2 linked regions of the Homo sapiens genome follow. The protein of the gene in region 2 interacts with the protein of the main gene of each other region in a biochemical or structural test. Each region holds a gene or a part of one and is shown on either strand. Other genes may lie near its edges.

Region 1 (7,293 bases), on a different chromosome or scaffold from region 2:
GCAATCACACAGCTCATCTGTCGTCACGCCCGGAGGAAAGCCATCCCCAGGGTAAGAACAGGGGTCTCCCTATGTTGCCCAGGCCGGTCTCGAACTCCTGGGTTCAAGTAATCCTCCCACCTCAGCTTCTGGAGTAGCTGGGACTACAGGTGCAAGTCCACATTCGGTAAATTTTTCAATTTTTTTTTTTTTTTATTAAAGACGGGATCTCCCTATGTTGCCCAGGCCAGTCTCAAACTTCTGGGCTCAAGTGATTCTCCTGCCTCAGCCTCCCAAAGAGCTGGAATTACAGGCATGAGCCACTGCCCCTGGCTAGAACATTTACATCACCTTAAAAAGAAACCCTGTACCTTTTAGCTATCACCTATCCCACTGATTCCCCCAAAGACCCCCCAAGTTTATTCCCATTCTCCACATCTGCTGAGCTGCCTAGGTGGCTCGCTACCTGGCCCCCCATCTGCCCCATGCTTCTAGTTTCCACGTGGAGTGCTCTCTGCCTGCCAGGATCTCCCAATGCTGCCCATCTGTGACCCAGCCCTTGCGGCCTTCAGACAGATGCTCCTCCTCCTGGCCATGAAACCCACCCTCTGCCTGGTTTCTACAAAGGACACAGGGAGCTCGTTCCATTTTCTGATCACCTGAGAGCGGAACTGGATGGTGGGGGACAATGGTCTCAGGATTTGCTGCCACCAGTGTCTTCGGTGAAACAGCCACTCCCCAGCTCCCCTTGAAGCTCATCCCTGTGCCAGGGACCCTGGTGATCACACCACAAAGGCAGGGGAGAAAGAAGTCACCTCAGGCCAGTCACGGGCTTGACCTGTAGGTCTCAACAGGCTCTGCTTGCCCCTCAAAAGCTTGGTGTTCTTCTATATCATTGTTTCTCCCCTGGAGCTGACTCTGTCCTCAGGGACACTTGGCAACCTCTGTCCCGAGACATGTTTTTTTCCCTTTGAGACAGAGTCTTGCTCTGTTGCCCAGGCTGGAGTGCAGTGGCATGATCTTGGCTCACTGCAACCTCCACCTCCCGGGTTCAAGCGATTGTTTTGCCTCAGCCTCCCAAGTAGCTGGGATTACAGGTGCACCACACCATACCTGGCTAATTTTGTGTGTGTGTGTGTTTTTCTTTTTTTCTTTTTTTTTTTTTTTGTATTTTTAGTAGACACAAGATTTCACCATGTTGGCCAGGCTGGTCTCAAACTCCTAGCTTCAAGTGATCTGCCTGCCTCAGCCTCCCAAAGTGTTGGGATTACAGATGTGAGCCACTGCGCCTGGCCCAGAGACATATTAAGGGTTGTTGGGACAGGGAGGATGCTACCAACATGAAGAAGGTTGAGGCTGGAAATGCTGGTCCACACCCCGTGGTGCTCAGGGTCCCACCACAGAGAGGGACCCAGCCACAAATATCAGCAGTGCTGAGGGTGAGAGACCCTACATTAATTATTTGGAAAAAAATTGATTCTTTCCTCACACTAAATACCAGAATACACAGAATACATTCCCAATAATTTTTTTTTTTTTTGAGATGAGTCTCACTCTGTCACCCAGGCTGGAGTGCAGTGGCACCATCTTGGCTCACTGCAGCCTCAACCTCCCAGGCTCAAGTGATCCTCCGGCCTCAGCCTCCTGAGTAGCTGGGACCACAGGCATGTGTCAACATACCTGGCTAATTTTTGTATCTTTTTTGTAGAGACGGGGATTCACTATGTTGCCAAGGCTGGTCTGGAAGTCCTGGGCCCAAGGGATCCTCCCACCTCCGCCTCCCAAAGTGCTGGGATTACAGGCATGTAATCACTTGGCCCCCAAAGGGTTATTAACCCAAAGGGTTATTAACCAGGAGAATCCACCTAGCCTCTCTGATTTCTCTCCTCTCTCCTTCCCCATTCACTTTGTGTATTTAAATGTGCGGGCTGGGCATGGTGGCTCACATCTGCAATCCCAGCACCTTGGGAGGCTGAGGTGGGTGGATCACCTGAGGTCACGAATTCAAGACCAGCCTGGCCAACATGGTGAAATTCCATCTCTACTAAAAATATAAAAATTAGCTGGGCGTGGTAGCGGGTGCCTGTAACCCCACCTACTTGGGAGGCTGAGGCAGGAGAATCGGTAACTTGAAGCTGGGAGGTGGAGGCTGCAGTGAGCCGAGGCCGTGCCATTGCACTCCAGCCTGGGCAACAAGAACGAAACTCAGTCTCAAAAAAAAAAAAAAAAAAGAGGGCAGCATCCTAGGACTTCGGTCAGTCAGATGATGACAGACGCAAAGTCACTTAGGAGTCAACAGAACCCGGAACTAGTGTTTCTCACCCAGAGCTGACTCTGCCCTCCAGGAGACACTTGGCCATGTCTGGAGACATTTCTGGTTATCCAGACACAGAGCAGGGGGTGCTACTGGCATCTGAAGGGTGGAGGCCGGGGATGCTGTTCAACACCCTACAGTGCAGACGGCAGCTGCTACCCAAGAGAATGATCTGCCCCCAATGTCACCAATGCTGCAGCTGAGAAGATATGCTTTAAATCAATCAGAAAAGTGGCTGGGCGTGGTGGCTCACGCCTGTAATCCCAGCACTTTGGGAGGCTGAGGCGGGTGATCACTTGAGCCCAGGAGTTCAAGACCAGGCAACATGGTGAAACCCTGTCTCTATAAACAATACAAAAATTAGCCTGGCGTGGTGGTGACAGCCTGTAGTCCCAAGCTACTAGGGAGAATGAGGTAGGACGATCACTTGAGCCCAGGGAGGTTGTCAAGCCTGCAGTGAGCCAAGATCATGCCTCTGCACTTTATCCTAGGTGACAGAGTGAGACCCTGTCTCAAAAAAAAAAAAAAAAAAAAAAGCAAGATTCACACACTTTCAGCCTCCTCGAGGACCCACGGGCACTTGACATGTTAGCATGGTTCCAACCCCACGCTCACTTGGCTGCAGGATATTGAGAGTGCGGAGTGCAAGAGGGAGCCAGCCTTGAGGACGTACCTGCCCCGGTTCAGGCCACTTTCTGCACTCCAGGACACCCCAACCCTTACCTTCTCCCTTCCCTGCTAAATCATGGGCCTGACTCCCGAGGGACCACCCAGGGGAAAGGAACCAGTTTCCACGGCACCTATGGGCCAAATAAGTACGATCACACTTTCTCCGCCTCTCTTGTTCTTGTGCCTACCCAATAAACAGCATCTCCACGTGACAAGACAAGGACCCCAGGGGTCTTCCCAAGCAGTGGGCAAGCTACCCCTTGCCCCCCATGGCACATTCACCAGGAAATTAAAGCCCCACGTGAGTACCCATACCCTGGGAATCAAAATCTCAAATGTCACCCTCCTGCCCCCGATCTCGTCTGCCCTGGAATGGGATGCAGGAGGTGGCAGACGCCTCCTCGTGGAGATGCTCTGAGCAGTGAGCCCAGGAAGATCCACAGCAAAGCCTTGAGCCTCCCACTGCTGCTGTGCTGCTGTGACTTCACTCGTGAGGAAGCAGCGGTGCCCACCTCGCAGGCAGAAGACCCAGGGCACGGCTGACTGGGGAAGCTCTCAGGTCTCCCACTTCCCCCATAAGCGAGTCCCCAGGCCAGGCAGGCTCCCGTCACAGGCTCGCCTGCTGCCGGCACCTTCACAGACCCCACTGGGCTGTTAATTTGACTTCCATGCTCGTGACTCCTGGCTGAACATCTGAACAGAGGCGAGGGCTATTTCTGTTCTCCTCAGTCTCCCCAAGGGCCAGCTCTGAGCCTGGCTCCCAGCCAATACTTCCTTTTTGCTGAAGGATTTTAAGACCTTCCAGAAACTTCTTTTGTTCAATCACTTGTGACAGCAGTTGGTCCTAAGGTCACTTGGGTCCAAGAGTGTAGTTACTTTTGGATATTCCTTGCCCCTGACCCTGGCAATACTGAGAACAGAGATATACCCCCGCCCCATGCCCTGTTTGTAAACTTCATCCTGCTTCCCCACCAGGCACACGCAGCCTTGTGGACCTGGCCCTCAACACATCCCCTGTAAAATCCCATGGGACCCACTCCGCCCTGGGCTGGGTCCTCGCCTCTTTTTTTTTTTTTTTTTTTTGAGATGGGATCTTACTCTCTTGCCCAGGCTGGAGTGCAGTGGCACAAGATCACGGCTCACTGCAACCTCTGCCTCCTGGGTTCAAGCAATTCTTCTGCCTCAGCCACCCAAGCAGCTGGGATTACAGGTGTGTGCCACTACACCCAGCTAATTTTTGTATTTTTAGTAGAGACTGGGTTTCATCATGTTGGCCAGGCTGGTCTCAAACTCCTGACCTTAGGTGATCCTCCCACCTCGGCCTCCCAAAGTGCTGGGATTACAGGCGTAAGCCACTGCACCAGGCCTCTCACCTCTCTTTAGTCACCCCTGAATGTATGAGTGTGAGATCTGGAAAACAGGGAGCGTCCAAAATTGATGTGGCCAACCAACCTGCTCACCCTTAAAGTGTTTATTTAAAGGAGTGAGAAGAGACAAAATGGACCTATTCTCTATTGACACGATCATTTCCCTCCAGGTTCCTATATTATCTAAAAATGTAAGTTGAGGCCGGGCACGGTGGCTCACATCTGTTATCCCAGCACTTTGGGAGTCCGAGCGGGCTGATCACCTGATGTCAGGAGTTTAAGACCAGCCTGGTCAACACAATGAAAGCCCATCTCTACTAAAAATACAAAAAGTAGCTGGGCGTGGTGGCGCACGCCTGTAGTCCCAGCTACTCGGGAGGCTGAGGCAGGAGAATCACTTGAACCTGGGAGACAGAGGTTGCAGTGAGCTGAGATCGCGTCACTGCACCCCAGCCTGGGTGACAGAGTGAGACTCTGCCCCCGCCCCCAAAATAAATAAACAAATAAATAAAAATGTAATTTGAATTTGTCCTTTTCTCAGTATTATGGGCTGAGCTGTGTCCACCACTCCCCTCCACAAAGAAATATTCACATATTGAAATCCTAAACCTCAGAACTTCAGAGTATGAGTATATTTGGGATTTTTTTTTTTTTTAAGAGATGGGGGTGTCGTTCTGTCACCCAGGCTGGAATGCAGTGCCATGATCATAGCTCACTGTAGCCTCAAACTCCCAGGCTCAAGCGATCTGTCTGTCTCAGCTTCTTAAAGTGCTGGGACCACAGGCATTCACCATCATGTCTAGCTAATTTTAGTATTTTTTTGTAGAGATGGGATCTTGCTATGTTGTCCAGGCTGGTCTTAAACTCCTGGCCTCAAGTGATCCTCCTGCCTCAGCCTCCCAAAGGGCTGAGATTACAGGCGTGTGCCACCAAGCCTCGCCTAGAGACAGGGTCTTTATGGGGATGATTCAGTTAAAATGATGTCATTAGGGTGGGCCCCCTTCCATATGACTGCTGTCCTCATAAGAGGAAATTTGGACACAGAGACAGGCACAGAGGGAGGACGATGTGAAGACCCAGGGGAAGACGGCTATGTATGAGCCAACAGAGAGAGGCGTGGAACAGATTCTCACAGCCCTCCGAAGGCACGAACCCTGCCAACACCTTGATCTTGAATGTGATCTTAAACGTCTGGCCTCTAGAACTGCAAGCCAATATACTTCTGTCGTTCTGGCCACCCAGCGTGCGGTTCTGTTACAGCAGCCCTAGCAAACTCAGGCACCCAGCAACAACAGTCATGAAACACCCCTAGCGGGGCTCCTTCTCTTGCACATACAGCCCTGTGCAGCAGGGCAGAGATGGGTTTTAAACAAGTGAGTCAGACAAGGATATCTTATTCATCACTCCGACGAACCCATGGGCTGAACCCTTGAATCACTACTTTATTTATCATCGGGCTCGGGCTCAGAAAGTCTCGCTGAGGAAATGAGTAGAACCCAAACTCGTCAGCTGCATTTCTGAAACATGCCTAATCTCTGAGGCTCTTTCCCAGCCACGATAGAAATTGAAAGGGAACGGGGCTCTGGGCTGCGGCGGTGGGCTGGTGTGGAGACAGAGCCCTTTGTTCTGCCACTCCAGGGACCACGAGGGCAGAAGAGAAGGGCTTGTCTTGCTTTGCCGAGAGGCCGCCTGGGGCCGTCTGAATGGCCGGCCGAGCAGGGGCAGCCTGGCACAGCTGGGCTGGGGATGCCGGGCACACAAAGGGCTGGTGGGTGGGGTGTGGGGGCAGCACCCAGAAGGGACCGTCAGTCCCGTGGCCCCAGAGCGTCTCCTCCAATCAAGGTAAAGCAGCAAAGTCACGGTCAAGGAGGGGGCCAAGCAGGGAAGGGGACAGCAAGATGGACCAAGAACAAAAATTCAGCAGTATGTGCTTGGGAACGGGCGGGCGAAAGGGCCCATGGAAGAGATAATGCAGCTTACAAAAGCGACGTTTATCCGGGGCAACCTCCAAAGTAGCTCTTGGGAGAGAATCTAATACCTCTAATCTCAGAAGAAAAGCAACAGATCATTCTAAGACGAGGACAGTTCCTCCAGAAATCCAGGTCAGTCACAAGACAAAGAAAAGACAAGGGCACCCGCTGTCCACCCTCGGGCACGTTGCCTACCCTCCCACAGTCCGTTCCTAACGGTTCCTCCTTTTTATCAAGACCCGCTCCCTCCTGATTAAGAACTGACTGGATGGCAGGATTCAGTTCCTGGTCTCTGCCCCTGTTCCCACTCTTAGTGGCAGTTCCTCAGGGGCTCCACAAACACCAAGGACCCACCAAGGCAATGATGGGCCCTAGAGGGGAACCAGGTTTTACTAATGAGCATCACATTTCACCTGGCGGGGGAGGTGATTCTGCCCCCAGGGGACACGTGGCCATGGCTGGAGTCATTTTCAGTTGTTACCCCTTGGAGGGGATGGAATACTACTGGCATCTCATGGGTGACAGCCAGGGACACTATTCCACATTCTACAGTGCACAGCCCCAACTGTCAATGGTGATGCGGGTGAGAAACGGCCCTGGAGATTTGGGTTTCCCCAGTTAAAGGTTACTAAGGATCCTGCATGTTTCTAGAAAGCTCAAGGAACCATCTCTGAAGTCATCACCTGCCTGGGCCTGTTTCTGTATCAGGAAGATAAGAACAAGGACCCTCGCACTGCCGGTTGGCAGAATGAGAGAGCTGGGATGCCCTGTACAGGCCGGGCTTCAAAGGTATCTGCTTGTGCAATCCCTTCCACCCGGAGTGGTTTAACACGTGGTATCTTTCCAGGTTTGACCTGGGGCCAGCCACTACTTCCGAGGAAACTTGCTGGAATCCCCCTTGTCCTAAAGCTTGCATTGGTTGTCCCTAATTCTCCCCCCATAATATCTTGTGGCCCCTCTGTCACCGTACTGATGACCTGATCTGAATTCCATT
Region 2 (3,917 bases):
AGAAAGAATACGGTCATCTGCATTGTATTATCATATCTACTTACGGAATAGATGTTCTGAGGCCAATTAAATACATTTTAGAATTTTAAGGGATCACCTAGTCTCTGTTATCCCATTTGATTGACAAGACTGATTGATTAAGGCCCCACAGGGCCTTGTGATCTAGGGCCTCACAAGGGTCAGTGAAGAGAGGAGTCGCCTCAGATTCCAGTCCAGGTCTCTTGAAACTAAGCTTTGCATGTGCCACCTGCCACACGGCAGCTTTGCATTGAAAGAAACTTAGAAAATTAGGAAAATGTGGGTTTCCTGGTAAGTTACAATGGCTTCTTTTAACATGTTTGGTTTTCTTCCCAATTTGAAAAGCATGTTTATGTTGACACTCCAGCTAATGTAAACAGATGGGATCTAACATGTTCTTGAATAGTTCATATTCACTACTATGTTCATGATTGCTCTTTCTCGGTGAATATGGGGACCAGTAGATACGCAAGTAACATTAAAGGAAACCTTTTCTTTTGCAGTGTCTGCAGTGAAGCACTAAGTTACTTCCTCACTCTAACATCAGAAAGTCATCGAGAAGCCTGGACTAACTTACTGCTTTTGTTTCTAACTAAAGTTCTAAAGATAAGTGATAATAGGGTAAGTATGAGGCTTCGAATCCAGCCCCACATTTCTAGCCCAATTCGCATTGGGATGCGGGGTCCCAGAGCCGCCGTGCAAGAGCTCTCAGAGATGAATCAAGCAGTGCCCAGGCTGCACTGCTGCTTGTGCAAAGCCACCAGTGGCCTTGCTGTATCTTCCTCAGTCCTTGCTTTTCTCCCCCCTTACCCAGCTTTGTTCACTAATTAGCAGTTCTCTAGGGGATTCAGTAGGCGAGGGATCAGAATCCCTTGGGATACCTTGACAAGTTCCCATTATGACCCCAGGAATCTCCCCCTTTGCCCCATTTTGAAAACTGCTGTCCAACCACCTCATGGCCTTGTACTCTGCCTACTACTCAAGACTACATCTGGTTCCTGGGCCTGTGCTCTGGGCTGCAGCTGTTCCTTTGGCATATTTAGTGGTTCCAGGTAACCCAGAGTCCCTAGTGAATGGGCCTCATCTAAGAATTTTAAACCAGTAGAAATAAAGATAAAATACACATATATGACTGTAAATATAAGTGCATATTTAAGGTTTTCAAAAATGTACACTCTATTCTTAGAAAAAAAAATAGCAACTTACAGCTCACACATACAGGCTGCTTTGCTGTGACCCTAGAATAGGTTTAAAAATGCCTAGTGATGTGGCCCACTACTTGAAAGGCCAAGGGCTCTAAATCCCAGCCTCTGTTACTCCACAGCTGGCTTTTTTTTTTTTGGTCATAATATGTCTCACTGCTTCCCTGGATCTGGAGGGGTACAGAAGGGGTAGGAAAGGAGGCTGCAGACTAGAGTTCAGAGATGAAGGAACTACTGTGAAGATACAGCCAAAGTATAGCAATTGAACTGTACATGTGAAACGTATGTAGCTTTGCCTGAAGAACTGTTTAGATTTTATATTGCAGTGTTGGGTAGAATTTTCCCCAAAACTTAAAATTTTTATGTAACAAAAGATAAAATTTCAGTAACCCATAGCTTATAAAATCTCAACTCTAGTTTGTACTCACTTGCCTGCTGCTTATTACCCAGGAAAAACAGTGCTAAATTACTAAAAGTTTGTCAAAGATATACAGACAAATGTTTTTCAAAATAAGGATATGTAAGTGAATAGTGTTTGTATGAAGTGAGTTTTTCTAACACTTCTGTCTCTCAGTTCCACAAACCAGAGTCACTGCCTGCTGTGGACCCTGCTTTCCTGGCTCCTGTGATGGAGCCCCAGAGTAGTTTGACTCTAGGCAGTTTAAGGCTCTGCAGTTTGCAATCACTACTAATGGAGAAATTCATTTTCCCTGCAGTTTAAAGCTCATGCATCATTCTACTACCCTCTCTTATGTGAAATTATGCAATTTGACTTGATTCCTGAACTTCGTGCTGTTCTTAGAAGATTTTTTCTGCGAATCGGAGTAGTTTTTCAGATATCACAACCACCTGAACAGGAACTTGGAATAAACAAGCAATGATGGGAACTTAATATTTTTGTTGGCATTTACATCCCTCTGCTCTTTAAAAGGACGCTGGAGCTGAGGTTTCCTACCTGAAAAATGATTTCTCTGGATTGCAGTGTCTGAGTTACTGGTAAAGATGCTTAGAAGTCTTACTCAAACTTGCAACACTCCAGTCCCTTTTAGTGCTGGTGGATTTTGTGTGTTATATTGGCCTCATGTTGAGCAGAAAGCCTGTTTAAACAGTGTCAGCTCATGCTCACGGGTCCTTCCCTGTCTTCCACGGCAGGAAAAGCCCCACGTTTTTGGCAGGTGTGGAAGTGAAACTTACCCAAAGAACTATAGATGTAAAGATTGAACTTCTACAAGAAGTACAACTCAGGAGAGCTGTATTTTGAAGGATAAAATGTTTATAATTGGGGAGTGGGGAGAGAAGAAGAAATTATTGTTCATGGTAAAAGATATTTAGCAACTATGGTATTCTTATTCTGAAGATTTTTGCACACTCAGGCTATCTGAGATACTGGTAATCATCCTGTGAAAAATGTACAGAGATGCAGGTCTGTAATATAAAAATCTTAAAACATTATATAGTTCTTCCTGCACTGTTTTCTTTATTTTCTTATTCATTTGCTAAATACCCATAATATTTTGTCAAATGCACTAAACATTTGGGTGGAACTTTCTTTTTTATTTTATAGGGATTTTTAGTTTTGCCCTTTTTGGTAGGTGGTGATTTTGAGGCTGTAACATGCCCAGAAGCTGTTGTGGCCGACACTTCAACAATAGGGAAAAAAAGGTAGAAAATATCCCTACTGACAGTAACTACCTGTCACATATTTCTCTTAGGACTTTTAAAGATGAGCCATTAAAATAGAATGATCCTTTATGGACCAAAACTTGAATCACTGCAAAATGAATCCAGATTGCTGTCATTTTCTTTTCTTTTGGGTGGTGGGGCTTGATGTAGATTTTACTCTATGTACAGAATTTAACGTTGAATATATTAAAATAACAAATCTGGCATGGTTTGCGGAGGTTAGATTTACTGGAAATGTATTCATACTGTGAATTGTGCTCTGATGGTTAAAAGACAAGATTGTCAAGCATTCCGTATTAACAGTGGATGTAGAAAATTTTTTCAGATGGACAAAATGTATATGGTACAGATGTAAAGTTTTCTATGTAAAAAATTCTGTACAACTTTCTGTACAATATTGATTCCCATCTGGCATATTCTAATCAGGTTATAGGTCAATAAAGTTTTTGAATTATTTCATCAGTGCAATCAAAACCTGTATAACCCACCCCCATGTTTCATTGATTCTGGTCTATTAAGGCTGAACAACTATGGAAAAGACATTTTCAGCCAGAACTACAAATTCAATATTGTTTGGTTCTGGTATTTTCTTTCCAGCTTCTAGCATTAGATCCTCCTTACACTGTACTTACCATAGGATACTTATTTTTAAGGCAATTTTTAAAATTTTTATTTATCTTTTAGAGACCGGATCTCACTCTGTTGTCCAGGCTGGAGTGCAGTGGTATGAGCACAGCTCACTGTAGCCTCAAACTGGGCTCACGATTCTCACACTCCACCCTCCCCAGTAGTGAGGACTGTAGGCACACACCACTACACTTGCCTAATTAAAAAAAAATTTTTTTTTTTTAGAGATGGGATCTCACTATATTGCCCAGGCTGGTCTCAAACTCTTGGACCTGAAGTGATCCTCCCAACTCAGCCTCACAAAGTGCTGGGATTATAGGCATGAGCCACCATATCCAGCCCAAAAATCTTTTAATATTTTTTGCATATTAATAACCTAGCATCAGG

What was found.
Region 1: the proteins of ARFGEF1 (region 2) and MYO9B form a complex in vitro, tested with the Homo sapiens proteins (one study listed by IntAct).

Annotation. Positions count from the first base shown.
Region 1 is NC_000019.10:17,078,563-17,085,855, reverse strand, and holds part of MYO9B (unconventional myosin-IXb), read right to left. Parts: intron 1-7,293. UniProt on the Homo sapiens protein: Myosins are actin-based motor molecules with ATPase activity. Unconventional myosins serve in intracellular movements. Binds actin with high affinity both in the absence and presence of ATP and its mechanochemical activity is inhibited by calcium ions.
Region 2 is NC_000008.11:67,197,118-67,201,034, reverse strand, and holds the end of ARFGEF1 (brefeldin A-inhibited guanine nucleotide-exchange protein 1), read left to right. Parts: intron 1-521; coding exon 522-639; coding exon of another isoform or gene 640-849; exon of another isoform or gene 850-1,145; intron 1,146-1,936; coding exon 1,937-2,101; 3' UTR 2,102-3,377; downstream 3,378-3,917. UniProt on the Homo sapiens protein: Promotes guanine-nucleotide exchange on ARF1 and ARF3. Promotes the activation of ARF1/ARF3 through replacement of GDP with GTP. Involved in vesicular trafficking.